Linked DNA regions of Homo sapiens. The protein of the gene in region 2 interacts with the protein of the main gene of each other region in a biochemical or structural test. Each region holds a gene or a part of one and is shown on either strand. Other genes may lie near its edges. The genes, in order: SNCG, GRK6 and FSHR.

Region 1 (10,240 bases), on a different chromosome or scaffold from region 2:
TTAACGCAAAATCACAGGGTCCTGAGGTGATGTACATCCTCAGCTTATGAAGATAACAGGATTAAGAGATTAAAGCAAGACAGGCATAAGAAATTATGAGTATTATTAGGGAAGTGATAAATGTCCATATTAAAATGAAATCTTCACAATTTATGTTCAGAGATTGCAGTAAAGACAGGTGTAAGAAATTATAAGAGTATTAATTTTGGGAACTGATATATGCCCATATTAAAATGAAATCTTCACAATTTATGTTCCTCTGCCGCGGCTCCAGCCTGTCCCTCCGTTCAGGGTCCCTGACTTCCCGCAACAGCTCAGCCCTAGGGAAAAATCTCTCTTAGACCAGTGGTTCTCAATGGGAGGAGAGGGTACTTTCCCCAGGTGCATTGTCACGACTGGGTGGTGGGTGCTACTCATGACTAGGTATCTCATGGGTGGGGCCCAAAGATGCTGCCAAATACCCTACAATGCATAGGACATCTCCACACCCCACCACAAGGAATTATCTAGTCCAAAATGTCAGTATGCCAGGGCTGAGAAACTCTCTCTAAACAAACTTCCATTCCTTGCAAACCTCTGACCTACTGCAGAGGGCCTGGAAGGCGTGTGCCCCAGGCACGCCTGGCCTGGTCCAGCCTGCCAGGAGTGACTGGGACTTTCCACCTCAAGCTCCTGGAAGTGGAAACTATGCCGCCCACCCTTCCTGCCCAGGAACTTTCTCCGCTGACCTGCCCAGACCCTGGGCTTCAGCACTGCTATTCTCTCTGCCCATGCTCCCCACCCTGGGCAGGCCCTCCCTTGGCACAGTACAGGCTGCTGGCCCAGAACCCTGGGAACATTCCTGACCTTTGCTTTGGCTTCCTCCAGCTCTTGGCAGCTTCTGGCTGGCCCTTGATGCCCATGCCCCCGGCCCAACTTGCTGAAGTGCCCATTTTTCCCTCTGCCCCTCCGTCTCAGGCTGGCTTCATCTTTGTGCCCTCCCTTGGGGAGTCCTGCTGGGTGCCCTCATCTCCCAGTGGCCAACCCAGAGTGGATGTGGGGCTCCTCTGGCCTGGTTTGGAGCTGCCCTTGGTCTGCTGTGGCCCCAACCTGCTGCTCCACCCAGATAGGAGGGTACGTGGACTCCTTTGGAGCTTTAAATGGAAGCTGGGCGGCCTGCGTTCTCCTCTCCTCCTCCTCCCTGAACCCACAGTGACCTTGGGCAAGGCCCTTCCCCCATCATCGAAATGCGAAGAAGCTGTGCCTCTGCGGCACACAGATCAGAGCTGGTGTGGGGGGAAGGGAGAGGGAGCCTGTGGGAGGGGGAGGGCGCATCCATTATGCAGATTGTGTGGAGTGCCTTCCCTTCCCCAGCCAGGAAACGCCCTCCCAGGGGCCCTCAAGTCTTCCTTGGGAAGGAAGGCGTGTTCTCAGCAGCCTTGTTTTCTGAGGCCCTGAAGCCAGCCATTAACTTGACCATTCCAGGGGAGAAACTCACAGGATTTTGTCCTTGAGTCAGAAAAGGGCCTTGGCAGAGAAGCCTGAGGCTCTCAGGGATCAGCCCAGAGCTAAGAACCCCTGAGCGTGGTTCTGGAAGCTTCAGCTCTGGCCAGTGGGGGTTCTTCCCTGTTCATACCAAGGGCTCTGTGCCCGGCAGGGGTCGGGGGTGGGGGTGAGGATGGGGGAGGAACAAGTGCAAAAGGTGCATCGTGGCCCAGAGAAGGCGGCCTGTGCTCTGCCCTGCTCCTGTGTGACCTCCAGTCATATGCTGGACTCCTCTGGGCCACAAGCTCCCAGCTGGGAAAATCTCAGTGCTCTTTGTGTAAGGGTCAGGAGAAGCCTGAGGCTGGTGACTGGGGCCAACCAGCCTGCTGGCAGCAGCATCCCCTACACGGCCACCCTCTTGGGGGGACAGGACAGCCTGGGTGGGCCTGGGCTCTCACTGTCACTTAGGAGCTCTGTGGCCCTGGGAGGCGTCCCCACCCCTCCAAGCTATCATAGCAATGTGATAGATGGGACACCTTGCCTGGGGCTCAGCACGGTCCCTACCGCAGACTGAGTTCCACTGGGACAGCAAATCCTGGGTCTGAGGCACCCACATTCTAGACATCCCCAAGCCAGGGCACAGAAACAGCCTCTTCCTCCCGGAGTCCTAATGCTCAGGCTGCTGGCTCCCTGGGCTGGGCCCCTCGGGGTCCCTGGCAACCTAAGAAGCAGTTAACCCCTTCGCTTCTCCACCTCAGGGAAGTCTGAGGACGTAGTGGTTCTATTCAAGCTTCTCCTTGCAAAGGGTCTTATTGGGGCCTGCATCCTGGGCCCAGCCTAGCCCTGGGGCTCTGGAAACAGATGTAAGTGGCAAAGGCAGGGCAGAATGCCTGGCCCTGGCAGCCGAGCCTCCTTGTGATGGTGTTGGTGTCACCACCCCTGCTAGCAGAACCCAGTCTGCCTCCCCTTCCCATGCTGCAGGGACAGGGTCTGGAGCACGCTTCCACCTCCCTGGTCACAGGAGCAAGGGAAGTAATCAGCCCAGGAAGCCGCGCGTTTCCTTCCTTTCTCACCAGCCCATCCGGGTTTGGTGAGAGAGCATGGACTTGCCCTGTGGAGACTGCAGCTTCTGGATGTGGGAAGGAGAGCCCTGCAGGCAGGGGGCTTCCAGGCTTGGGACACCTGGGCATTCCTGGGCCAGGTACATGCACCCTCCCACTCAGAACCCCAGAGAAGGACTGCGGGGCCCCTGCAGGGCTGCCCATCAGCAGTTCCCAAACCCTCACTCCTTGGGGCTAAGGGAGCAATGTCTCTCCCACAACCAAGGGGGTGGGGAGGAAGAGGAGCAGCTCCCTCCTCCCTCCCGTCCACCGGGTCCTCTCATCCTCCCTTTCATCAAAAGGCGGAAGGTGGCCTGAGACTAAGGCGTGGAGCTTCCTTGGTCCTGAAATCAGAGCGGAGTGGCTGGATCCAGCCCGCCCCTCCCCCGCCCCCTGCTCCCCTTGCCGCCCCACCACCGAGAATCACCTGCACCTCCCAGCCCTGAGCAGAGTTGGGGGCAGGCGGGAATGAGGTTTCTCCATGGCCAACTGCTCAGCCACTGTTCCCCACGCCACTGCCACCAGACCCTCACTAAGGGGCCTCTTGCCCCTCCCTGGTCAAATCTGTTTTCAGGAAAGCACCCAACAAACCTGCAACTCAGAAGCCAAATGAGACCTATCCCAGGCAGGTCCGCTCTGCGATGGTGGCTCTCATACACCGCACAGAAGTGTAAGTTGGCCCCCCCCTCACTCCCTAAATCCATGTAGATGCCCTTAGCCAAACAGGTCTGGTGTGTGGGGGCAGGAGGGTGGAGGTAGGAGCATCTGGGGGCTGGGGCTGGCTCCAAGTGCTGCAGAGAGTTCACTATGAGCTCTGAAGTCAAACTCAGATCCTGCTCCTTAGCTGTGTGGCCTTGGGCAAGCCCCTCAGCCTCTCTGAGCCTCAGGCTCCTCCTCTGTAAGTGGGGCTGTTGGAGGGATGAACTGAGATACACGTGGCAAGGTGCCTGGCCCTGAGACTGGGGGCCCCGTAAACAGCACCTGCTGCTCTGACTGAGGGGCAGTTGGAGATGAGGGGGGACTTACAGGCCCAACACCTCATCAGCAGGATGGGCCCTGGCTCTGTACACATAGAATGTTGGAAAGCTATGTTCTGGGTCCAGTTGCAAGACCATCCTGCCCACTTGCTGGGTCGCTGAGGCAGAGCGCCCTGGACTGTGCTCTGGAGAGCAGGGGGCCGTCTCTGCTCACTGCTGGGCAGTCAGAGTCAGGTCCCCAGGGAACTCAGATCAAAATCTCAGGGCAGCCTTGCTGGGTCTCAGCTTTCAGAATTGATTTCTTTGGAAGAACAGGAGGCATAGCCAGGCCAGCTGGCAATGGCTTCAGCCACAGTCCCCCAGTGCCCCATGCTGGGTGATTGATGGTAGGAGCTGTGCCTCCCTGCCAGCCCCCCAAGCCCCATTCCCTGCCATGGCTCCGACAGGGAACTCCCTGCAATTCTTAGGTGGATCCTGAAACACCCAGTCCAGACTACTTTTTCAGCCTCACAGATGGCCCAGAGATAGATACTATTAGCCCATTTCACAGATGGGACCCCAGTGAGGTCTAGAGAGGCTCTGCTCTAGCTGAGCTGGGACTCAGATCCTACTCCATGACCTCTGCCAAGGTCCAGGCCCTCTTACCGTCCTACGGGGTCCTTGCCGGTGTCCTCAGCCTCTGCCTTCCAGACCCCAGGTGTCCTGGAGCTCTGCAGATCAGAGAGGCTAGTACTGGAAGCCTGGGCCCATGCCCCCAGCAGCCCCCAGCCCAGGGGGCCCCCAAGGCTGAACAGCAAGCTCAGGATCATCTTGGTGGTGGGGCAGGCTCAGCTCACACTCAGCCTTGGCAAGTAGCTCCAGAAACTGCTAGTGACGTTGTCTTCAAGTTAAATCTCAGGAGGAAAAGAAAATACGAGGACAACAAAGAGAGGAAGTGGCCTGGGCCGGCCTACCCGGTGGGTCTTGTCCTGCCCCCCAACTACCCTGGCTGGCCCCACAGGGGCCGCCAACCACACAAGCCAGTTCCTGTCCCTGAGGACTTGGCTCAGGGACTCTGGGAATGTGGTAGACATGGGGTGGCCCCACCAAATGCATCCTTATGGGAACCTGCTCCCTGGGAGCCATGAAAAGAGCGTGGACTTCGAGGTGGGGCCACAGGAAGTGGTCAGGTCCATCTCAGGGGACCTGCTGCCCATCCACACTGCTGGCCAGGAAATGGGGGGCAATTCATGCCTCCTCAGCACCTTCAGCACTGGGCGGCTCAAAGAAGGGAAGGGACTATTCTGGGGTCACACAGCATGCAGCCAGAGGCCAAGGCATGAGGAAGTCCTTCATTTCCCCACCCCCACCCACCTCAGATCCTCCAACCGGTTTCATGGCAGCCCAGGGTCCAGCGGCATCCAGGATGCTGGTGGGTAGCTGCACAGCCCAGGCCGCGGGAGGTTGGCTGCTCTCACCTAACAGGCCTATGTGGCCCTGACCCCTACCTAGGAAGCTGGGGACAATGGCCAAGGCGCCTCCCCTCTCTGTGCCTGTCTGTCCAGGTGCAGCATAGACACAGCACCCCTGGGGCCAAGAGCACCCAGCCAGGGCTGCCCCCATGGGTGGGCAGGGCAGTAAATGAATGAGGGACAGGTTGGGAGGTGGCCAGCCCCCTCCAGCCCATGGAGGGCACGGGGCAGGAGAGCTGGGCTGAGCCAGCAGGAGCCCAGGGAGCCTGGTCTCTGCCTTCCTATCCTGGAGGAAGGTGAGGCTGAACCTCCTTCCCTCCCTCCCTCCCTCCCCGCCCCCACTGCACGCAGGGCTGGCTGGGCTCCAGCTGGCCTCCGCATCAATATTTCATCGGCGTCAATAGGAGGCATCGGGGACAGCCGCTGCGGCAGCACTCGAGCCAGCTCAAGCCCGCAGCTCGCAGGGAGATCCAGCTCCGTCCTGCCTGCAGCAGCACAACCCTGCACACCCACCATGGATGTCTTCAAGAAGGGCTTCTCCATCGCCAAGGAGGGCGTGGTGGGTGCGGTGGAAAAGACCAAGCAGGGGGTGACGGAAGCAGCTGAGAAGACCAAGGAGGGGGTCATGTATGTGGGTAAGTGGGGCATGGCAGGGTGGGACAGTGTGGTGGCCAAAGGGTGAGTGCCCAGTTACCTTCGCCAGACCTTACTCCCCAGCCCCAGGGAGGCATTTTGGGAGGGGGCGAGGCCCTGGCTATCAAGGTGGGGTCTCCAGACCCTGGAGCACCCACAATGCCCTGTGCACACCTATGTGTGTTTGTCTTTGGCCTCCTCGGGGCCTCTGGGTGTCAGAGACCGCAGACAGGGCTGGCTACCTGTCTGTGCACGCACACACACATTCCCAAGCATACCAGCCTCCCCTGAGCCTGGAGCCCCTGAAGCCATGAGCAGCCTGTGCTCAGGTGGCCCCCACCCTCTCCACACGGGAGCGGCTACAGCCAGGTCACGGATCCCCTCCCTCCCCAGAGAGAAGGGGCAGGCTGGGGGATGAAACCTAGGCTCAGTGTTCCCTCCCCCGCATCCTCTCCTGGCACTCTCCAGAGGAGGAAGGGGAGGTCAAGCCAATGACTCAGCTCTGGCCCATCCTGTCCTGTTGCTGCTTCTGAGGCCCGGCCACACCCGGGCAGGGGCTGGACCCTGGGTCTAGCCAGTGTCCCTACCTCAGGCCTGCTCTCTCTTGTCCCCCACATTCTGTCCTGTCCCCTTCCCATCCATCCACTTCTTCCAGACACAGCAGGAAGAGGCCCTCTGAAGGGGCCGCCGGCCCCCAGACACCATCCTTACCCCCCCACCGACCCCACAGTTTGTCCAGCTGTTCTGTTGTGTTTGTCCTGACCGCCCCCAACACCTCGAGGGAGGTCTGGGCTGACAGCTCCATTTCCTCCCCAGGAGCCAAGACCAAGGAGAATGTTGTACAGAGCGTGACCTCAGGTGAGAAGCCCCAGGGCCAGGGGACACATGGGGGATAGGACCCCTGGGGCTCCTGCATCCTAGTGCTGGGGCTCAAACCTAGAGTCCTGCCTTACCCCCAACTGGGGTCCCAAGCCCTACAGACCCCTGCAGACCATGAGGCTAAACTAGGGTGGGCGTCTCCTTACCCCCACCAGCATCAGAGGTGCCCTGGAGTCAGAGGGAGCAGGGGAGGGTCCCAGCAGGGCCAGGGCTCTGAGCTCCTGGGAAGGGGCTGCGAGCCTGACTCCAGCAGGCCTGCCTTGGGGCTGGGGCTGGGGTGGAGGCCAGCCAGTGTCCTCCCATAGTGGCCGAGAAGACCAAGGAGCAGGCCAACGCCGTGAGCGAGGCTGTGGTGAGCAGCGTCAACACTGTGGCCACCAAGACCGTGGAGGAGGCGGAGAACATCGCGGTCACCTCCGGGGTGGTGCGCAAGGTGAGCCCCGGCCCTCAGACCTGCCCAGTCCTCTCCTGGGCCCAGAAAGGCTGCTGGGCGGAGGCGGCATCACTCCACTCCACACCCCAGGAAACAACACGGGGGGCTGCGGCTGGCTTCAGTTTCAGTACCCACTGAGCGCCGGCATGGGGTGGGGTCCATGCTTGCTGTTCGACCTGCATTCGGGTCTGGAATCACCACAACCACCCCTTCGGGGGACTTGGGAGCCCATCTCATAGACAAGGAAAGTGAGGCTCAAAACCACATCTTCCGGACGGCTCTCAGCACTTAGGAGACACCCCATTTTATAAGTGAAAACAGGATCCCACACGGTGACAGGCAGCCTCCCGGGCAGTGGTCACCAGGCCGGGGGCTGAGTAGCACCAGCCCCGCCCCCAGGGCCTAGCCTCCCTCCCTGGGCTGGGCGGGGCAGCTGCCTCCTGCTGGGAGCCTCAGGGAAGTAGCGTCCCCTAGTGGTAAGAAAGCAGTGCTGCTTCTGACCCTACCCTCTGCAGCTGCCTTTGTGTGTGTGTGCACGTGTGTTGAGTGAGCATGTGGGTGCATTTGTGAGAATGTGTGGGTGTACATGCGTGTGAATGTACACATGCGTGTGCGGCCCAATAGCAGACAGCACAGGAGCAGTGGGGCGCACCCCAGGGACGGGTGTTGGCTGGGTGAGCTGTCCCAGCACCTGTGACACAGCAAGCTCTGCTTTACGCATTGTACGCTTATTAGTTCATTTAATAGACACAAAATCCATGAGACGGTGTGGAAACTAAGGCCCAGAGAGATTAATGTGCCCAAGGTCCCATGGCTAGTTCATGTGAGCTTGGAATTCCCCTGAGCAGCCTGTACTCTGAGAGACCCTGTGGCAGTGTAAGTGGTGGCCTGGGCTAGGATTCCTACCTGGGGGTGGGGCGGGGGAGCAGTGTCCAGCTCTCCTACCTGCTCCAGGCCTCCTAGGTGGTGGAGTCTGAGGCTCTGAGCACTGAGAATCCCTGCGTTAGGAGTGGGTGGGTGGAAGGGTGGGGGCTGCCCTACTCCTCTTGGCTCTGGGGCGATGCCCAGGTGTCTGCTTCCAGGGCCAGCACAGGGTCTCCATGTCCTTGGAGCTGGCAGCCGCTCCCTCTCCTAGTTCCCCTTTCTCGTCGTATGACCTTGAGAAGCAAAGGAACCTCTCTGGGCCTCCGTGTTCTCATCTGCAAGATGGGGGTGAGAGTGTCGGCCTCCCTGGGCTGTGTGATGAGGCAGGGCCATGACCTCCATGAAGCAATTCTCCTGGTCTATGTGAGCACCCAGCAGAGGAAGGTGACCATCATCATCATCATCATCATGTGTCCCAGGCAGAACACATAGAGCCCCAGGGGGCTCCTCCCTCCTCACCCCCAGCAAAAGAGGCCCTGGGGTGAGGGTGCCCGGGCATTCCTTGTGAATCCCGGAGCAGGGCTAGTGAGCCCTTGGAGCCACCTCGAGGGAGACTCATTTCCTGGTGACACCCCAAAACCAGTCACGACTCATCTCCCAGTGAACTGTGAAAGGCCTCAGCAGGGACTATCTGACCACTCATACCCCTGGCCTCATCATCAGCCTTAGGGCAGCAGGACTCAGCAGGTGGCCACCTGCCCTGCCCCTGGATAGCCTGGCCGACTCCCGCCAGCACAGCACTGCCCTTTTATGCCCCACTCCGCCAAGGGGCAGGATGGCCCTGGGGCAACACAGAGGTGACAGTATCCCCGCCTCCCCCCCGTCCCCCGCCAGAGGCAGGTGCTGAGGCCAGAGTGCAGGGCAATCACCAGTGTGGTCCTACACACCCAGCTGTCATGATATCTCACGCAAGTGTCTGGCCGGCATGGAGTGCAGGAGATAGAAGATGGGAAGTGAGAGAGGACTGTGTAACCTCTGCTGGCCCTGACCAGCCTGAGCCCAGAGCCTGTCCAGGAGGCAAAGAGAGGGAGCCATGCTCCTGTGGACTGAAGTGGGCCTGAAGCAAGCCTGATCTGATGCCAACACACCCCACCACTTTGAGCTCGAAGGCCCTGAGCTGCATGCCAAGCCTCCCTGGCCTCAGAGTCCCTATGTGAACCCCAATCAGTCTTCCTTGTAGGGCTACTGAGGGTGGGGTCAGACCTGGGGCTTCAGGGGCCTCTGCCCACTCTAACCCCCACTCCACCCTACCCCACCCAGGTTCCTCATCAGTGAAGCCCAACTAGGGGCTTCCCAGAGACTGGGGACCAGCTTGAGGGGTGAAGCTGGGCTCCAGGGTACTTGGTGCCCCTGGAAGGCCTCGGCATCATCAGAGCCCCGGGTATTGTCTGAATTGCACGCCCCCAATACCTCCAGCCCCTCCAAGTACAACAAGGCCACGAGGGGCCTCTGCTCCTCCTTGAGGCCAGGGTAGACAAGGCCCTGGTTGCAGGGCAGCTAGGGGTCTCTGCATTCTCCACATGGTCTCATGCCCCCTTTTGTCCCCTACAGGAGGACTTGAGGCCATCTGCCCCCCAACAGGAGGGTGAGGCATCCAAAGAGAAAGAGGAAGTGGCAGAGGAGGTAGGAGCTGGGCTCCTGGGGTGCACCATGGGGGGTTCCTTGGTAGGGACCCCATCCCCCACAGACGCACTGCTTCCCTCCTGGGCTCCCAGGGCCCAGAGGGGCCTCCTGACCTTCCACAGCCCCTACAGGGACTGTGTACAGGGCTAACCCTGAACCTGAGTGGGAGGTCCCCCCACGGATGACCCCTCAGGCATGGGGCACAGAAGACAACTTTTCTCAGCCCACTCAGGGTGGCCCATTAAGGCTGGGGCCTGGAGCTGGGTGTGCAGGTCATTCTCTCTCCCAGGCCCAGAGTGGGGGAGACTAGAGGGCTACAGGCCAGCGTGGATGACCTGAAGAGCGCTCCTCTGCCTTGGACACCATCCCCTCCTAGCACAAGGAGTGCCCGCCTTGAGTGACATGCGGCTGCCCACGCTCCTGCCCTCGTCTCCCTGGCCACCCTTGGCCTGTCCACCTGTGCTGCTGCACCAACCTCACTGCCCTCCCTCGGCCCCACCCACCCTCTGGTCCTTCTGACCCCACTTATGCTGCTGTGAATTTTTTTTTTAAATGATTCCAAATAAAACTTGAGCCCACTCCTGCCATGCTTCCTCTGGGTGCTGTGTAGCTTGAGGAGGGGTCCCCAGGTCCTCCCAGGAACAGGAACGGGTTCAGCCTGTTGATAGGACCAGGTATCCTATAGGGACACACACAGGGCATTCATGGGACCTGCGTGAGCCTTCAGGAACACCCCCAACCCACCCATTGCCTTTA
Region 2 (9,630 bases):
TCCACCCACCCAGCCACACCCACTTCTGTCTGGGAGTCTTCTCTCAAAAGGGGCCTCAGTAGAAAGGGCCCATGCCGATGCTCCTCTTCTAGAGGTTAGGAGACCAAGACTCAGCCGGGGCCGCACACAGTTGTGAAGCCATGTCGTTCATTTGCTGAATACTTATTAAACCCTGCTATGGCTGAGCCTGCAGGTGGCTACCGGGGGATGGAGGAGAGAGACCCAAACCTGTTTCCGTGGCCCCAGTCCCTGCCCTCCCTGTGCCCATCTGTGAGGGAGGCCAGTGGAGGGGCCAACATGAGGCCCCACATTCCACCTGGAGACCGAGAGACGCAGGAGGCAGAGTCCTGGCTCTGCAGGCTCCGCCTCTTGCCGGTTGCGTGGCCTTGAACCAGACACTCCGCTGCTCCCGGCCTCACTCTGCTCCACTGGAAAACACTCATCATACCTGCCTCCCAGGGCTGCCTGGAAGATGAAAAGGGAGAGTTCAGGGAAAACTCCCCACAGGGCTGCCCTGGCAGGTAGGAGGTATTCAGAAAATAGGAGTTTCCTTCTTCTCGCTGATATTAAATCCAGAAGTTGCAAAATGGTAGCCACATGGGCCCAATTTGGCCTACATTTGTGTTTAAGTCAAACTGTTTTTAGTAAGCCAGATGGTTTCACATACAAAATACAGATTTCTGACTTCTTGTGTAAAATCTGAAGACCCGGGGACCCTGGGCGCGGCCTCCTGCAGGGCCGTATTCACCCCGCTTGATGGGGCCTGTGCTCTCCTACTGGCCAAGGTCCCCCCTGGCCAGCGGGTGTGAGTGTATCCCAGACCTAACGTGCACTGGCGTTCCTGGGGCCTGAGGGTCCACTGCCCGCCTCCTGCCCAGCCCTAACTCCCATGCCGCCCGCCCAGCTCCGGAGGTGGTGAAGAATGAACGGTACACGTTCAGCCCTGACTGGTGGGCGCTCGGCTGCCTCCTGTACGAGATGATCGCAGGCCAGTCGCCCTTCCAGCAGAGGAAGAAGAAGATCAAGCGGGAGGAGGTGGAGCGGCTGGTGAAGGAGGTCCCCGAGGAGTATTCCGAGCGCTTTTCCCCGCAGGCCCGCTCACTTTGCTCACAGGTACGGCAGCTCACAGAAGCCTGGCCAGCCAGGGCTGGGGTGGATGCACCTTTCCCTCCCTCCCACCCACTCACCTGCCTGGCCTGCCTGGCCGACTCACCCCTGCCACAGCTCCTCTGCAAGGACCCTGCCGAACGCCTGGGGTGTCGTGGGGGCAGTGCCCGCGAGGTGAAGGAGCACCCCCTCTTTAAGAAGCTGAACTTCAAGCGGCTGGGAGCTGGCATGCTGGAGCCGCCGTTCAAGCCTGACGTGAGTGCAGCCCACTCCTGCTGAGGGCGGGGCCCAGCCAGGGCTGGGGCTCAGGGGCTCTTGTAGTATCAGCCAGGATGCTTCCAGTGCAAGTGGCAGAAAAAACAATCTAGTGGCTTAGCCACAGAAATAAAGATAATTCACAAAAAGGAAAAGCCCCAGGATGGGTCTGGCTTGTGGCATGCCTGGATGGGGCTTGGAGCCTCTGACAATGTCCTAGGAACTCTCTCTCCTTCCCCTCACTGTACCGTTGAGTGTGTAGTCTTCATATTGGGGTAGCTCTCCCCATGGTGCGGCAGCAGTGGGCCCCAGCAGCTCAGCCACCACAGTAGACAGAGAGCTTCTCTTCTCTTTTCTCTTCTCCTCTCCTCTCCTTCCTTCCTTCGTTCTTTTTTCCCTTCTTTTTTCCTTTCTTTCCTTTCTTCCTTTTCTTTTCTTTTTGGAGACAGGGTCTTGCTCTGTCCCCGAGGCTGGAGTGCAGTGGTGAGATCTTGGCTCCCTGCAACCTCTGCCTCCCAGGTTCAAGCGATTCTCCTGCCTCAGCCTCCTGAGTAGCTGGGATTACAGGCGCCCACCACCATGCCCGGCTAATTTTTGTATTTTTAGTAGAGATGAGGTTTCACCATGTTGGCCAGGCTGGTCTTGAAATCCTGACCTCAGGTGATCCTCTTGCCTCGGCCTCCCAAAGTGCTGGGATTACAGGAGTGAGCCATCGCGCCTGCCCTTGCCCAATAATTTCAAAAGAAATCCTCATGGGGGAAAAGAAGTCCCAAAGCTGATGCCCATTGCCTCTCATTGCTCAGAGGCCCCTCACTGGCCACACCCAGATCATACACCCACCCGAACCTGCACCAATGGGGGAGCTCAGTTCCCCAGAGGAAAACTACAATGCAATTGCCAGCAGTGGGAGGGGCTGTTGGGCTGGCCATCCTTCTGTGGGTGGTCACTTTTCCTTATGGAGTCTCACCTGTTAACTGAGCATCTCAGTGGGCCAGGCACCCAGCAGGCAAGAGTATCCTCTAGTTGTCAGAGTCCGGGTGGCAGAAAACCAACCTAAACTCACTTAAGCTCACCGTGGAGTGTATTGGTTCATTTGGCCAGAAAGTCCCAAAGTAGGGCCAGCTCCAGGGTTTCCTGCTGTGTGCCACGATTCTCCAGCTCTTGCCTGGCCTTCAACCTGTTGACTCTTTCCCTCCCCCTGAATTAGGCTTCTCTGTGTGACAGTCATAGGGAAGGTTCTGATTGGCTAAGATGAGGTCATGTGCTTTCCCCTTCCCATGTCTATGAGGACTGGTCCTGTAATTAACGGTTCACCAGGAACACTGGAGAGGCCCGAAGGATGGGCAGGGCAGGCCAGGTTGATAGCTGTCAATGACACACACGTTTATTGATTCAGCAAATAGCTGAGTGCCCATTTATGCCAGACCCTGGAGATAATGAGGCCCACTGGAGCCAGTCCTGCCCTTACATTCTAGTGGGAGACACACCCAAACAAACCCGTAAGCCAGAAGGAATTCCAGGTAATGTTAAGTGTGACAAAGAAAACTAAAGCAAGCGGCTGGGTGCGGTGGCTCACGCTGTAATCCCAGCACTTTGGGAGGCTGAGGCAGGCGGATCACCTGAGGTTGGGAGTTCGAAGACCAGCCTGACCAACATGGAGAAACCCCATCTCTACTAAAAATACAAAATTAGCTGGGCATGGTGGCGCATGCCTGTAATCCCAGCTACTCGGCAGACTGAGGCAGGAGAATCGCTTGAACCCAAGAGGAGGAGGTTGCGGTGAGTTGAGATCGCGCATTGCACTCCAGCCTGGGCAACAAGAGTGAAACTTCATCTCAAAAAAAAAAGAAAACTAAAGCAAGCTACGAAGATGGCAGAGAATGATGGTGGGGGGAGCGCTTTTAGACACCGTGGTCTCTGGGGAGGTGATGCTGGTGCAGAAATGTAAAATATGTGAAGCGGAGAGCCATGCCAAGGTTTGGGGTGTGAGCATTCCAGGCAGAAGAAACAGCCGGGTATTGCAGTCCTGAGGCAGGGGCCAGCCCTGTGAGGTGGAGCAGCCGCGAGGACACCTGTGTGGCTGAGTGAGCCCGTGCAGGCAAAGAGGAGTGCCGGCAGGTTCTCAGCAAGATGGGACCGCTGGGGGACCCTGGGCAGGAATGTGAGGTGTGGGGAGTGGGCCATAGTGGGTGTGAGTGGAAGTGGGGAGGCCAGTGAGGGGGCTACTGCCCTGAGTGACTGCCTCACATGGGCCTCACTGGAACCGCTGGCCAGGCTGGTCTCGAACTCCTGACCTCAAGTAATCTGCTCGCCTTGGCCTCCATACCTCTTGGTCTATACCTAGAAGTAGAATTACCAGGTCATATGGTAACTATGTTTAACCTTTTGGGGAACTGCCAGACTGTTTTCCAAAGCAAAGGTGGGCCCTGTCAGAGGCACTTACTTGAACTAAGAGAGCCTGACTTTCATCAGCTCGCCCCTGAGGCTGGCACTGCCACTCAGTCTGTTCTGTTTCCTGTGTACATCATCTCATTTAACCTTGAAATAACTACACTGCCTCTGGATCTTCCATTCAAAGTCGGAGATAAAATCAGTGCCCTGGAGTTTAACTTTGTGGAAGCAGTAGATGAAAAAGCAAGCTTGATGATATTTTTTTAACAGCTCTATTGAGTTTAATTTATATGATTTATATACCATACAATTCACCCATTTAAAGTGTACAATTCGGCTGGGCGTGGTGGCTCATGCCTGTAATCCCAGCACTTTGGGAGGCCAAGGTGAGTGGATCACCTGAGGTCAGGAGTTCAAGACCAGCCTGGCCAACAAGGTGAAACCCCCGTCTCTACTAAAAATACAAAAATTAGCTGGACGTGGTGGCGCATGCCGGTAATCTCACCTACTTGGGAGGCTGAGGCAGGAGAATCGCTTGAACCTAGGAGGCGGAGGTTGCAGTGAGCTGAGATCACACCATTGCACTCCAGGCTGGGCAACAAGAGCAAAACTCCCATCTCAAAAAAAAAAAAAAAAAGTGCAATTCATTGGCTTTTTAATTATGCAGTCAGCACCACGATAAATTCTTGAGTGTGTTCATTACCTGCCCCACTCTGCAAAAAAAAAAAAAACCCATACCCTTAGCAGCCATTCCCCATGCTTCCCTCCCGCTGCTCCTAGCAATCACCAGTCTACTCTGTGTCTCTCTCTGTTTGCCTACTCTGGACATGTCATAGCTATGGCATCACATAGTATGTGATCCTCTGTGCCTGGCTTCTTTCACTTAGCATAGTATCTTCAAGGTTCATCCATGTTGTAGCATAGATCAGTGCTTCATACCTTTTTAAGGCTGAATAATATTCCATTGCATGGATAGACCACATTTTCCTTACCTGTTCGTCAGTTGGTAGACATTAAGATTGTTCCCACTTTTTGGCTGTTATTGCTGCTGTGAACATTCCTGTACAAGTTTTTGTGTGTGCAGATGCCGCCATTTCTCTTGGTCTATACCTAGGAGTAGAATTACTAGGTCATATGGTAATGATGTTTAAGCTTTTGGGGAACTGCCAGACTGTTTTCCAAAGCAGCTGTACCATTTTACATGACAATGATTTTAATTGACATCTTAATTGAAGGATTTAGAAAACAATGTTAAGATAAAAAAAGAAGGTGGCCGCCTGGAGCTGAGGTGGGCTCCCAGTGTGGGTCTGGGGAGGTGGAGCAGTGGGAGACCGTGCCAGTCCTCTGATTGGCTGGGAGAGAAGACGGCAAGTCCCAGGTCATCGCAGGGCGGGGAGCCAGGGAGTCACCAGCTCCAGGCTCTGCGTGGTGGTGCCCAGCGGAGGGGCCGGCTGAGATTCAGCCTGTACTCCCCGCCCCAACTGCATACCCAGGAAGCTGTGGGCAGGCGAAGGAGGTGCCTGGCATTGGCCTTTACACAGCCTCACAGTCATTGAGCAGTGAGGAATAACGTACGCAGTTCACAGAGGGGAAAACCAGGCTTCGGAGAGAAGGGCCTGCCCCACTTAGGAAGTGCGTGGGGCACCTGGTTTCTCCAAATCAGAGAGCTGCTGGTGTCAGGCAGCACTAGGCCAAGACCCGAGGCAGAATCAGGGCTGAGCTGCCTTCGCGTGTGCGTGTGTGTGTTTCCTATCTGACCGTTGCCTCTGTCCCACCAGCCCCAGGCCATTTACTGCAAGGATGTTCTGGACATTGAACAGTTCTCTACGGTCAAGGGCGTGGAGCTGGAGCCTACCGACCAGGACTTCTACCAGAAGTTTGCCACAGGCAGTGTGCCCATCCCCTGGCAGAACGAGGTGGGGGCCTGCCCTGCTGGTGGGGTGGGCTCCAGGAGGCTGCCCTGGGGACAGCTGTCACAGCCGCCTGCTCCTCAGCAGATGGTGGAGACCGAGTGCTTCCAAGAGCTGAATGTCTTTGGGCTGGATGGCTCAGTTCCCCCAGACCTGGACTGGAAGGGCCAGCCACCTGCACCTCCTAAAAAGGGACTGCTGCAGAGACTCTTCAGTCGCCAAGTAAGCCCCAGCAGCGGCCTACCTGGGCCCCTAACCTGGCTCCAGGGGACGGTGGGTGGGAGGCAGAGCCGGTGCCCGCATGCGCTGGGAGTGGGCGTCCTCCAGTCCTGTTGTGGTGCCCAGGGTCTCTGGCCTCATTCCCGCCTGTCCCCCACCCCTGGCTGGGCTCATGGCCTCTTTTCTCTTTCCAGAGGTGAGCAGTGTGGGCTCCCCGTGGGTTGGCCTTGCTGCCTGGCCTCGGGGAGCCACGGGCAGCCCTTCCATGGCAAAGGCAAGATGTGGGAGAAAGAAGTCTGGTGCCCGCCCCACTCCCCCTGCCCACTGCTTTGATCCCCTGCACCCTGGCCCCTTCGAGCTGCCAGCTTTGCTTCGCTTGTCTCCCCGTGCCCTGTCTCTGCCAGCCCCAGGGGAGAGGGCTGGGCAGAGGCCTTGCCCTGGCAGACCGTGGGATCTACCCAGCCCCCTTACTTCAGTCTGTTGCCGGCAGCCTCTGCAATGACGCCCACCCACGTGTGGCCTGAGCTGCTGCTCCAGGCTCCTTGTGGAGAGGCCCCTCCCCAGAGTGCACCCCTCAGGCAGCTCCTGGCCTGCCCTGGCAGGGTCGGCCCCATGTGACGTCCCTCGTGGTTAATGGCACCTGCTCTGCCTCTCTCCCTCCCTCCGTGTCTTCCCCGTCCCTCCAGGATTGCTGTGGAAACTGCAGCGACAGCGAGGAAGAGCTCCCCACCCGCCTCTAGCCCCCAGCCCGAGGCCCCCACCAGCAGTTGGCGGTAGCAGCTACTCCGAGCGCCGTTTACAGTTTTGCACAGTGATCTTCCCCATTGTCCACTCAAGTCGTGGCCTGGGGAACACAGACGGAGCTGTCCCCAGTGTCCTCCGTCCCTCAGCCCCTGGCCTGGCTGAGTTTGGCAGGGCCTGGGCCATCCCTGGGACAAAGGTGCGTCCCTTCAGCTCTTCTCCGTGGAGCTCGGGGCTTTCTGTATTTATGTATTTGTACGAATGTATATAGCGACCAGAGCATTCTTAATTCCCGCCGCAGACCTGGCGCCCCCGCCTTGGCTCCTGGGGGCAGCCAGCCCTGGCTGGGAGAGCGGGAGCTGGCAGAGGAGCCACTGCCAAACTCAAGGCTCCTCTGGCCCAGCTTGGATGGCTGAGGGTGGTCACACCCCTGAGCCTTCAGCACTGTGCTGGCCACCCCGGCCTCTGAGTAAGACTCGTGCCTCCCCCTGCTGCCCTGGGCTCAGGCTGCTACCCTCTGGGGCCCAAAGCTGTCCCTTCTCAGTGCTTGTCAGCGCTGGGTCTGGGGCCTCTGTATGCCCTAGGCCTGTGCCAAAGTGGCCAGAGATTGGGCTGCCTGTGATACCCATCAGCCCACTGCCCCGGCCGGCCCAGATAGGTCTGCCTCTGCCTTCCAGCTCCCACAGCCTGGTCCCTGATACTGGGCTCTGTCCTGCAGACACCTCTTTCAGAAACGCCCAAGCCCAGCCCCTAGGAGGGGGTGGGGCATCCCTGGTCAACCCTCAAACATTCCGGACTCCCCTCATAACAATAGACACATGTGCCCAGCAATAATCCGCCCCTTCCTGTGTGCGCCTGTGGGGTGCGTGCGCGCGCGTGTGTACCTGTGTGGGTGAAGGGGATAGGGCGAGGCTGTGCCTGTGCCCCAGGTCCCAGCCCTGGCCCTTCCCAGACTGTGATGGCCATCCTGGTCCCAGTGTTAGGGTAGCATGGGATTACAGGGCCCTGTTTTTTCCATATTTAAAGCCAATTTTTATTACTCGTTTTGTCCAACGTAAGCTGCCACATGTCTCTGTGTGAATAGTCCGAGCACAAACCTGGCTAGCCGCCCCTGCCTGCCTCTTTCTTGCTTCCGGTGCTCCAGGGGTCTTCCTGCTCCCCTGGCCCAGCTGGAAGCGGGAAGGGATTGGAGGTGGGCCTGGAGGGAAGCAGGGTGTGCCCTTCCGAGGCCCAGGAGCCCCCAGGGCTGACTCTGAACTAGCCTCTCCAGACAGCCAGGCTTTGGTAGCCTTTGGGCTCACCCAGTGGGTTTCCCAACTTCCTAAATGGGATGGGGCCTAAGGAAAGAAGCCTTGGGTACCCACTGGGATGTGGGTCTGTTTCTGACTGCTGGTAAGGCGGGCCCCGTTGGTGTCCTCCCCTCCAAGGCTAAGGTGGCCTGGCTGCCTAAATGTGGACGTAAGAGTAGGGTGGGAGCTGTGTAAGGAATGTCTGCCCCAGGCCTGCGTTACCTGGACGCCAGCCATGTACGGGCCCCGGGCTGAGGCACGTGCATCATATCCACCCCTCTGTTTTGCCCTTGACACATTATGGGCAAAGACCTAGACAGTGGGTGACGCTGGCAGATAGGCTGTGGCCAGTGTGGGAGAGTTCTCTGAAGACGGTGGTTGAGCCGGCCTCGAAGTGGACATTCACCTGGGAGGAAGGGGGACTGGGAGGCACTCAAGGGGAGCTTCCTGCCTGGGCTCTGGGGCTGAGAGCTTGTTGCCTACCAGTCTGTCCCAGATCTGGCAACCCCATCACTGCTCTATAGACTCCCAGTGTCCCCAGCTCCCTGAGAATGCCCCGTAAGCCCCATCAAGCTTGTTCCTGGCCTCTGGACTGGGCACCCAGTGCTGCAGGAGCCATGTGAGCTTTGTAGCTGACAGTTCCAGGTTCAAGCCCCAGCCTGGCCACTTTTCAAGTTGGCCCTGCACAGGCGCTTCCCTGATATGGAAAGGTAGGTGTAAGACCCATCACCTTTCTGGGCAGCTGTGAGAATCCACCAAAGCAGCCAGCCAGCCCCTTGAGTTCCCAAGCCACCGCAGGACTCCCACCTGCTGGGGAGTGGTGCTGAGTACCAAACTAACCACCTGGCTTAAGCACAGCCAGAAGGTGCCAAGCCAGCAGCCTGGCAGAAGGGGCCTTTTGTGGCCCCACTCATGACATGTGGAGTGCCTGCTGCTTCCCACCAACCTAAGGGAAGTAAGGGGAGTGGGGACCTGCTCAAGGTCTTCCAACTGGTTAAGTGGCCATTGCAGGGTGGGGAGGAAACCAGGTAATGATGGGAAAGCTGGATCCTACCCATGTATCATGAGAAAGGAGCCTGGGGTGGGTTTGCCCCTCTGCCCCAGGCTGTTATGAGGTGGGAGTGGGGGATTTTTAGGTAGGTGTTAGCATGTCATACCAAAGCCCAGCCCTGGGCAGGTATGCAAGAGAGCGCGTGCCAGGTGGATGTGCAGGACCCTGAGGCACTCTGCCTGCACCTGGATCAGGACACCCTGGCCAGCTCCCCCTTGGGCTAGGGAGGCATCCAGGGAACTTCTTGGCTAGGGTTAAACTCACCTTAAAGCTCTTAACACAGTGGGTCCTTGGCAGAGGGAACTCCCAGAATTCATTTCCCAAGAAGCTTCCCTGAGCTGTCCTCCATGCCCAGCTCTATGGTGGGAACTGGGACCCAGATGGAGACGAGGCCCCTGGCAGCTTGGAGCTCAGTCTGGTAGGGAGGCAGACGTGGGAACAGCGGGACCCAGTGTGATCAGCACTGTGGAAGAGAGGATTCTAGAGCTGACAGGGTTGGGGGTGGGGCAGCACCAAACAGGGAGGCCCCTTGACCCTGAAGGTGTCAGAATTGGTGCCCTCCAGGACACAGGGTCAGATGTACCCAAGTAGAGGAGCCAGATGGATGGTCTAGGGCTTTAGTGGTTTAGGATGGCTGAGCATGGGAGGCCAGGGGTGGAAGCAAGGA
Region 3 (9,914 bases), on a different chromosome or scaffold from region 2:
AGCAAAATGTTATCCCCCACTAAAAATTCTCTTCTCAATATTAGGCCTATATTACAAAAAAAAAAAATACCCAATTATTACACTTTGAATTTGGTCAATAAAAAATTGTGGTAATTGTTTTATAAGTACATAAAGTACTTATATAATATTTTTTATTTTTGCCTTTTGGCCCATAAAACCTAAACTTTACTATCAGGCCCTTTACAGAAAAAGTTTGCTGAATCCTGTATTTGATTCAAATCCCCAGGGATCCACATGCCACAGCTACCTCAGCAACTCCCACTATCCTGCAACAGTCAGGAGTCCAGATGTGCCTGGGAGAGGCTTTCTCAAATGGCATTGGGGGTGCATAGCCACTTCTTTGCCATCAGAACCCACCAATTGATTGTGAATGTTTTAAAAGATTTGCCTCGCCCCTTTCTGGATTTTTTTAGGTAATTGGTTTTCAAGAGGAGGAAAAAGACATACAGTTGTTCTCCTGTGATTTTAAGTGTTTTCTGGCTACCCATGGCAGCCCAGGAAAGAGAGTCCTGGATGCACAGGAGCTTCTCTGGGTCAGCTTTCTGTACAGTGTTATTTGCAAGCCCACTAAGCTGGACAGGGAAAAGAACCTGACAGCAAAACAAGAGCAGGTAGTCAGAGGTTCTTCGGGCTAAGCTCTCCTGACCTTGGTATCTGTTTTTGTTTTCAGATCCACTCAGGAGCAGAGCAAGGCAGAGCTGTAGCCCAAGGTGTCCTTGGGCTCCCCTGTCCAGGGAACCCTGCTCACTGACCTTCTTAGCGCAATCAGGATGGCTGTTCTACACCCATCTCCACCTCCCCCAGAACCTCCTCCCCTGCTCATTCAGATCACCTCACCCTGCCACAGCCCACATTCTCTGTAATTGATTTCTCTTCCTTTCTGGCTTAACCCAGAGCCACCTCCACAAACCTCCAATAACCAGGTCCCTATGGGTCACAGGAGATGTTCAGGTTGTCTGACAACTTAATTAGATCACTTTTGATGACAGCCAGGCCTGCTGCTGTGGGTGATCATGGGTGAAAGGCTTAAGGCCTTAGAGAAAGGTGACACAAAATGTTCTTTCTCTGTCTTATAAACACTTGTTCAATAATTGTACGATTCCTGTCCTTCAGGATGAGAAAGATCTGTCGCTCCCCGCATTGCTTCTCTACACACAAATGATGTGTGTAAAGACCTTACAGTTATAGAATCCAGGCTGCTCTGCCTAAGTATGCCTTTCAAACTTAAATTTCATTTAATCCTTTGAATAGGTAATACATGCAAGTAATACAAACTTCAAAAGTTACAAAAGATTATACAGCAATAAATCAGTCTTCCTCCCACCCGTGTCCCCAAGCTTTAAAAGTGGCATTTTCTTTATGCCACTAACCTGTGCTGTCTGCCCTTGCTCAGTGCTTCCAATTATGAAACCCGTGTATTGTTTGCATCTGACATTATTGGTTTTTTAATAGGCCTTTTATTTCAGATGGCTGAATAAGAATGGGATTCAAGAAATACACAACTGTGCATTCAATGGAACCCAACTAGATGAGCTGTAAGTAGCCCTGACTATTCTTCAAGGCCATTTAAAGGGAAATGGCTCTTACAACAGCAATATTTATGTGGCTTTGTGTTTTCCTTCTTCTTTCCTCAACCCCATCCCCAGGAATCTAAGCGATAATAATAATTTAGAAGAATTGCCTAATGATGTTTTCCACGGAGCCTCTGGACCAGTCATTCTGTGAGTAGCTTTCCCCATTTCTGTGTGTAAGAGCTCAGTTTGTGTAAGTTAGAAGTCAACTCTCTGCAGCTAGGGGAGAAGCTTCCAACACAGGGCTGGCCATCAAGTTCAATTTTTATTCGTGTCATCTGCAAAAATTTATAGAGACAATTTAAGGCTTATCCACGGTCTAACTCTCCATTAAAAAGCAACACTAATAATAACATGTAATGAGCACGTACAGAGTGTCAGATGGCGTTCTCAGAAGTTAAGATGCATTTTCTTGTTTAATCCTTATAATCACCCCCTGTGGTAGGAGCTATTATTCCCGTTTTACAGAAGGAAAAACTGGCTTCCCTGGAGAGGTTAATTCACCCACTCAAGGTTATACAAGAGTTACAGCAGGGATTTAAACTGATCTAACTCATGGTACAGACCCACAACCACTCGATCATGTGTCTCTTCCCTGGAAAGGAAAGCACAATTCTCCATCATCCTCAACACTCAGGAGGTTCCTTCAACCCAATGAGACCTATATACACATTATTTTTGGATCCTCTTTCCAAATCCCTTGGGATGCATTCCGTGCCTCACAGCCCTGCATCAGCACCCCTCCCTCTTGTCATTTCCTTACTTCCATCTTTCCCTCCAAAAGTGACTTTCCCATCTTCTCTTCTTACCTACACTGCCCCTTCCATCAAGCATCATTCCAAAGTCCTCTACCTCCTCAAGTCTCTCTGACAACCTCGCCATCAGTGACTTCTTCCCGTGGCTCTCATGGCCTTTAAGGCTTCTTTGGTGGGGGGACAATCTGCATCACAATCACAAAAAGGCTTTTTAAAAATGTGTTCCTGGGCTCTAAGCAAGACCTACTACACTTACTGACTGAAAAAAGTACTTCAAGATGAAGAAAGGAACCCAAAAGGAGAGAATGAGGTACAAGAAGGAATGGTGAGCAGAGCAATAGATAAACATGTTAATAAATCTACAGTTTTACTGAATGATCCTTATGTAGCCTGCCTTAAGTCAAGTCAGGCGTTTAGAAGCCACCTGCCTGAACCTCTTATTTGGCAGTTAGCATAGGCTACCATGTGTGGTTATCTACCCACCTACCGACCAACCATCTATCTGCATCACTTTTGTCTACACCAAATAGCTAATATTCTCCTTCAGGCTGGAACCTGTGTACCTCTAGAATTAGACTTGGTATGGAGAGTCAGAATTTTAAATATTTATTATTAATGATAAAGGGTGTGTTGTGATCTATATATGAGATTCTGCTGCTTTGAAGAAGAAATATACACTTCAAGGTAGATTTATCATCCTGACCATGTTCAAAGATTATTCGAGAATGCCTGGCTTGAGATAGGCAACCTATACAAATGGAGTATCCGTGTGATTAAAGCGGAGATACAGAGCAGACTGCCTTGGTTTAGACCAATTCTTTTACCTCTCTAAGCCTTGGTTTCCTCACCTAAAAAAAATGGCCAAAACAATACCTATTTCCTAATATTATTTGAAGCATAAAACACACACACACACATAAATATTTTTTCACTCATCAGATAAATTTTTAAGCATCAGTCTTGTGCCATGCAGGAAACAAAGGAAAGTTCCTCCTCATAGAAAGCTTATATTCTCATTGGGGGTGGGAATAGAGAGGAGTCAGGCAATACATTAAATATACAACTTAATATATCAAGTCATGATCTATCTATGAAGTACAAGGAAGGACCCAGGGCTAACAAATGGAGAGTGTTGGGCATATAGTCCATGTACTCAAGAATACAAAGTACTCAAAACTTGTACTGCTTAGTTCATGTACCCTGTTCTTAGAGTACTCGGGAGACAAATGAATTTTGACAAGTACTTTTGATGTCTTTGATCCCCACAATAGCAGCATGTCAGTTTCACTTAGCAAAAAGCCCTGAAAGTTTTGAATGTTCCTAAGAAGGCATCTCTATCTGTTCATGGCAGAATATGTCAGTGATGGGTGTGTTTATATATGTGACCTGTACCAGGTACAATATTGAATCTATAGCATCTTAACCTATCTGCTCCCGAGAATAATGAAGTTGGATGAGATCCCCCAACTCCTTCATTATCCAACTGAAGAAATCAGAACCCAGAGGAGAGTGATCTGTTAAAGATCACACTGCAACTAGAAGGGGCAGAGTCTGGACCAGAAACTAGGTCTTCTGCCTCACATTCCATGTATTCCCACCATACCATGTTGCCATAAATACGTTTAATTGAACATCTAAAAGTTATTCGGTGAGGCCCCCTGAAACTGGTTGTGAGCTAAAATAGAGAGGAAAATAACTATTAACACCAGCCTCCCAGCCTAAGAACACCAGTCAATGTTAGATAAACGTGGCACAGAAGAACATCTCCTGAGGTTGCACAAGCAGATTCCAGGCGAAGATACTGCACAATGTATCTCATAAGAATGTTTAACAGAGAACACAAAACTTGAATCCCCCATCTAGCCCCACTGTGAACGCAGGCAGGAAGAGAGCCTCTGTGAAAGCATCGGAAGCAATTCTACAAGGTCCTCAAGTTATAGGCCCATTGTTTTGTCCTTCTTACCACAGGAACACATCTGTCTAGAATTAAGGGAATACAATTTACAGAAAATCCATGGAATTAGGAAGCACTCCCCATGACTTAAAAAGGTAGAGAGTGATAATACATTCCCACATATTTCCATCTCAGTGCAGGATCCTGGCTGGAAGCCCAGCCTATAATTGCGAATTTCCTCTTTTCCCCCTGGGGCCAAAAGAATTGTTCACCTTAACATCAAGCCCCCCTTTCTGGGGCTTTCAGATCAGTCCATAGATGTTCTTCAAGCCTCTCCCCCTGCTGACCTGAGATGCAAGAAGACTAATAGCTTATTCCACATCTCACTTCTGCATCCAGATACACTAAACCATCTAAACCCTGGCCTGAGAGGTGCTTGTGTAGGTGTGCAGTAGACCAGCCCACCTCAGGTGATGAGTTAAGAGGTAAGAGTAGGAGTATGCGTAGGCTATTCAGACCACAGTAGGTGCAAATCATGCTGATCTTGACTGTGCCTTGGGTCAGATTGCAGTCCCCGCTCCCACACACACACACACACACACACACAAAGACTGTGATATATCTGCATGCGGGAGGTTTACCGGAGGGTGCTCTCAGAATGTACAGGGAACCCTTGATGGAAGCAGAATCAGGGTAATGCATTTGCAACAAAAGGCTCAGCTGATCCCATGGGGAGATCTGGAGTTAAGATGGTCCTTCAAAGTTGTACTGAATTAAGGTAAGGGGCAAGTCCTCCATATCAAGAATTATTGGGTGCAGGCTGTCCCTGGGGAGGAACCAAACTCCTGGGGAGGAGAAAGTCAGCTGAGGGCAATTCCCAGAGTAGACTCGGCTATGAGCCACCTCAGCTGTGAGTGGTTCTCAGTTGTCCTAGAGCAGCATGTTCAGAGTTGAGTAGGTTTTGGGGGGGTGTTTTTGTGGTTTTTTTTAATCACCCATGCTGGAGTGCAGTGGTGCCATCATAGCTGACAGCAGCGTTAAACTCCCGAGCTCTAGTGATCCTCCTGCCTCAGCCTTCTGAGTAGCTGGGACTACAAGCGTGCACCACCACACCTGGCCATTTTTTTTGTTGCAGAGACAGGGTCTCACTATGTTGCCAAGGCTGATCTCAAACTCCTGGCCTCAAGTTATTCTCCTGCCTTGGACTCCCAAAGCACTGGAATTACAGGCGTGAGTCATAACACCCAGCTCCCACCTTTAGAATTTTTGATTCAGTAGGTCAGGGTTGAGGCCTGATAACTTGTATCTCTAACATCTTCCTAGTGAAACTGATGCTGCTTGTCCAGAGTGCTCTCTGAGAATTACTGCCCTAGGACCAATATTGGGAATTGGGAAGCCTTGCTCAGTCTCCAAAATATCTCCTCCACAAGCCAAATGTGGTGAATCTTCCTCCCTCACTGGCTCAGTCCTTTTTCTCCAGTGGATATATGCAAGGAATTCTAAGAAAATTAAGGGGCACACACTCAAACTGATGATAGCTGCTTTCCTGAAGGCAAAATTTGTAGTTGAGGGAAGAATAGGGAGCCTCTGAACACCTGAGGGTGCAAGGGTGCACTGTTCCACACAAAGAAAGATAGATGCAGAGAAAGCCAGGGGCATACAAACAAGTTTCATCGAGTTTCAGAGGAGCAGCTCAGCATCCTCATTTCCCCCTTGTGAGTCTTGACCTTGAACATCAGCAGCCATCTGAGTTTTTACCTGATATTCTGAACTCACTCAAGGTTGTTTTTTTTTAAGCAATCGAACAATTGCTGTTTCTTTGGGAAACAGTTTCCTGTGGGGAAAATTTAATGCATTGCCTTTGCAGGCTGGAGCCAGTACAATCATATTCTGATGGTTTATCAAATTGATTTGGCTATAGCTCAGATTCATTTGATAGTTCAGATTCAAACACTGAGTTATTTGTATAAGAATGGTTCTCTTCCATTACCAGTGTACCCACAGTCCTATAGATAGTAAATTGCCTTTTTATCCAGCCTGGGATCATGAAAGAGAGGTCTTCTAGCCATCTGTCAGTGTAGTATACACCAGAAATGTGCTCTCACTTATGGAAATGATTGACCTGTAATAACATCTTTGCTGGGAAAAATAGAAATTGTTCAAATCAAATTTGTGGCACTGGCTATAACACACTTTATTAAATGGGGCACAGAGTGCTTTTTAACTCCTGCCTCTCCTGCCTCAGCCTCTTACTACCCTCCTACCCATGCAGTCTCTCTTGCTACTCTGTATCTCAAAATGAAGAGTACTAACAATGTGGAAACAATTTTAAATTACTAAGTCTCTTCTGTGCAAGTCATAATCCCATGGGGTATCCACTGGTCTTTTCAAGATTTAAATTCTCAAAACTACTCACTATCTGAATATAGCATGTGTTGCAACGTTAAAAGTGATATTTTTAAAAGAAAGACCAAAATCATTAGAAGAGACCAGCCTGAAAGATAAAGTTTAAAAACACCAGTCCACAACTACCCCTCCCCGCTTGTCCAGCCCACCAGTTCCAGGCACAAGGGCAGGAATAAAGTAAACATTCTCAAGCACTCATTGAGGGCATCAAGTCTTACATGACATACATTTAGTGGATGTTGATTAAACACCTACTGTGTGTCTGGCAAGGGGTAAGAAATATATGTGAAAACAGAAAACAGTACCTACTGTAATGCATCTGGCCAAGGGATGAATGTTACTCCCCAGTACAATGAGCACTGCAGAAATTTTCACAAATGGCTATAGTAATATACAGCAGATGCCTAATAAACCCTTGTCATCATGTCACACAATGACTTTTAACACGTGAAGTGATAGTGTGGGAGGAGACAGCCTCTGTCATCCTAGGCCTGAATTTCTGCAAAAGCCACGTTGTCCCCTTCCTACCCTCAGTCCTTTCCCCTTCCATTAGTTTACCAACTATTTATTGAACACCCACCATATGCTGGTATCAAGGTTCTCAAGACTAATCTTACAAAAATCCAGCTTTGAATAAACCATTCTTCTGCTCATATAAATCCTAAACTCTTCTGCATGACTATCAAGGCTCAGAGATCTAATCCCGTCCCATGGTTCCCTTTACTCCTCCAAGTATGATTGCCCAGAATAACTATTCTAAATAACCCTCCCTCACTGTGCCATGATTTATGTTCTGGGCCTCTCTCTAAGCCTATCTTTAGCAAATAGTCATTGTATTAGTCAAGGTTATTCAAAGACAGAAACGAGAGAGAGAGAGAGAGAGGAGAGGGGATTTTATTATTATTATTATATTTTAAGTTCTGGGATACATGTGCAGAACATGCAGGTTTGTTACATAGGTGTACACGTGCCATGGTGGTTTGCTGCACCCATCAACCCATCATCTACATTAGGTATAACTGAAGGAGACAGAGACACGAAAAACCCCTCAAAAACGTCAGTAAATCCAGGAGCTGGCTTTTGGAAGAGAATAACAAAATAAACAGACTGCTAGCCAGACTAATGAAGAATAAAAGAGAGAAGAATCAAATAAACACAATAAAAAATGATAAAGGAGATATCACCACTGATCCCACAGAAATACAAACTACCATCAGAGAATACTATAAACACCTCTATGCAAATAAACTAAAAAATGTAAAAGAAATGGATAAATTCCTGGACACATACACCATTCCAAGACTAATCCAGGAAGAAGATGAATCCCTGAATAGACCAATAACAAGTTCAGAAATTGAGGCAGTAACTAATAGCCTACCAACCAAAAAAAGCCCAGGACCAGACAGATTCACAGCCAAATTCTACCAGAGGTACAAAAAGGAGCTGGTACCATTCCTTCTGAAACTATTCCAAACAACAGAAAAAGAGGGACTCCTCTCTAACTCATTTTGTGAGGCAGCATCATCCTGATACCAAAACCTGGCAGAGACAAGAAAAAGAAAAATTTCAGGCCAATATCCCTGATGAACATCGATGCGAAAATCCTCAATGAAATACTGACAAACTGAATCCAGCAGCACATCAAAAAGCTTATCCACCACGATCAAGTCAGCTTCATCCCTGGGATGCAAGGCTGGTTCAAAATACACAAATCAATAAACATAATCCATCACATAAACAGAACCAATGACAAAAACCATATGATTATCTCAATAGATGCAGAAAATGCCTTCGACAAAATTCAACACCACTTCATGCTAAAAAGTCTCAATAATCTAGGTATTGATGGACCGTATCTCAAAATAATAAGAGCTATTTATGACAAACTCGCAGCCAATATCATACTGAATGGGCAAAAACTGGAAGCATTTCCTTTGAAAACTGGCACAAGACAAAGATGCCCTCTCTCACCACTCCTATTCAACACAGTGTTGGAAGTTCTGGCCAGGACAATCAGGCAAGAGAAAGAAATAAAAGGTATTCAAATAGGAAGAGAGGAAGTCAGATTGTCCGTTTGCGGATGACATGATTGTATATTTAGAAAACCCCATCATCTCTGCCCCAAATCTCCTTAAGCTGATAAGCAACTTCAGCAAAGTCTCAGGATACAAAATCAATGTGCAAAAATCACAAGCATTCCTATACACCAATAATAGACAAACAGAGGGCCAAATCATGAGCAAACTCCCATTCACAATTGCTACAGAGAGAATAAAAATACCTAGGAATACAACTTACAAGGGATGTGAAGGACCTCTTCAAGGAGAACTGTGAACCACTGCTCGAGGAAATAAGAGAAGAGGAGATTTCTTAGGGACATTGGCTCACATGGCTATGGAGGCTGAGGAGTCCATGATAGGCTATCTGCAAGCTGGAGAACCAGGGAAGCTATAGCATGGCTTGGTCCAAACTTGAAAGCTTCAGAACCGGGGAGGCCATCTAATTCTCAGTCCAAGCAAGAGGCCTGACGTGCCTGTGTCAACAAGGAGACAGACATGCACTGGGGAGTAAGTAGAATGATACATTGGGTGGACTGACTTGAACACCATCCAGTGTTCAGGTGTTGGATTGGGAAGAGGCCTGAGAACCAGGGAAATTGATGGTATAACTCTGAGTCTGAAGTCAAAGTCCTGAGAATCCAAGGGGGTGGGGGAGGGAAACTGGTACAAATCCCTGAGTCCAAAAGCCTGAGAACCTGGAGTTCTGATGTCTAAAAGTAGGAGAAGAAGGGGTACCCAGCTTCTGGGTGAGGGCATATCTTCCTTACTCAATCCATGGATTCACATACCAATCTCTTCTGGAAATACCCTCAGACACCCAGAAATAGTGCTTTACCAACTATCTGAATATTCTTTAATCCCCTCAAGTTGACACCTAAAATTAACTATCGTGGTCACAATAATGTACTCCCATGAAGATGTGAATAACTGATGTCTTTTTTTGTTACTACCCCCCACCCACGCCCATGTATATTTGCATCATAAAAATGGAGAGTGTTTTCATAAAGGAATTAAAATCAAACATCTGATTTTTAGGCCATGCAGAAGAACTGTAGCCAACAAATAGACCTGTGTGTGTATGAGTGTGTGTGTATGTTTTAGGAGAACAGAGCAAAAAAGGGAATATACTATAGTTAAGTCTCTAGCCAAGATCTGAACAAGATCTACTTATCTCATCTTTGTCCCTGGCTAATATAAATTTCTATGG

The links.
Region 1: of the proteins of GRK6 (region 2) and SNCG, one has a biochemical effect on the other in vitro, tested with the Homo sapiens proteins (one study listed by BioGRID).
Region 3: of the proteins of GRK6 (region 2) and FSHR, one has a biochemical effect on the other in vitro, tested with the Homo sapiens proteins (one study listed by BioGRID).

Annotation. Positions count from the first base shown.
Region 1 is NC_000010.11:86,953,192-86,963,431, forward strand, and holds SNCG (gamma-synuclein), read left to right. Parts: upstream 1-5,506; coding exon 5,507-5,627; intron 5,628-6,441; coding exon 6,442-6,483; intron 6,484-6,757; coding exon of another isoform or gene 6,758-6,809; coding exon 6,810-6,937; intron 6,938-9,412; coding exon 9,413-9,484; intron 9,485-9,773; coding exon 9,774-9,794; 3' UTR 9,795-10,067; downstream 10,068-10,240. Other genes in the region: MMRN2 (multimerin-2 precursor), read right to left, coding at 4,187-4,350. UniProt on the Homo sapiens protein: Plays a role in neurofilament network integrity. May be involved in modulating axonal architecture during development and in the adult. In vitro, increases the susceptibility of neurofilament-H to calcium-dependent proteases.
Region 2 is NC_000005.10:177,435,169-177,444,798, forward strand, and holds the end of GRK6 (G protein-coupled receptor kinase 6), read left to right. Parts: intron 1-904; coding exon 905-1,113; intron 1,114-1,224; coding exon 1,225-1,362; intron 1,363-2,720; exon of another isoform or gene 2,721-3,702; intron 3,703-4,745; exon of another isoform or gene 4,746-4,863; intron 4,864-5,531; coding exon 5,532-5,669; intron 5,670-5,750; coding exon 5,751-5,885; intron 5,886-6,076; coding exon of another isoform or gene 6,077-6,082; exon of another isoform or gene 6,083-6,185; intron 6,186-6,566; coding exon of another isoform or gene 6,567-6,568; coding exon 6,569-6,622; coding exon of another isoform or gene 6,623-6,659; 3' UTR 6,660-7,723; downstream 7,724-9,630.
Region 3 is NC_000002.12:48,974,740-48,984,653, reverse strand, and holds part of FSHR (follicle-stimulating hormone receptor isoform 1 precursor), read left to right. Parts: intron 1-1,487; coding exon 1,488-1,556; intron 1,557-1,667; coding exon 1,668-1,742; intron 1,743-9,914. UniProt on the Homo sapiens protein: G protein-coupled receptor for follitropin, the follicle-stimulating hormone. Through cAMP production activates the downstream PI3K-AKT and ERK1/ERK2 signaling pathways.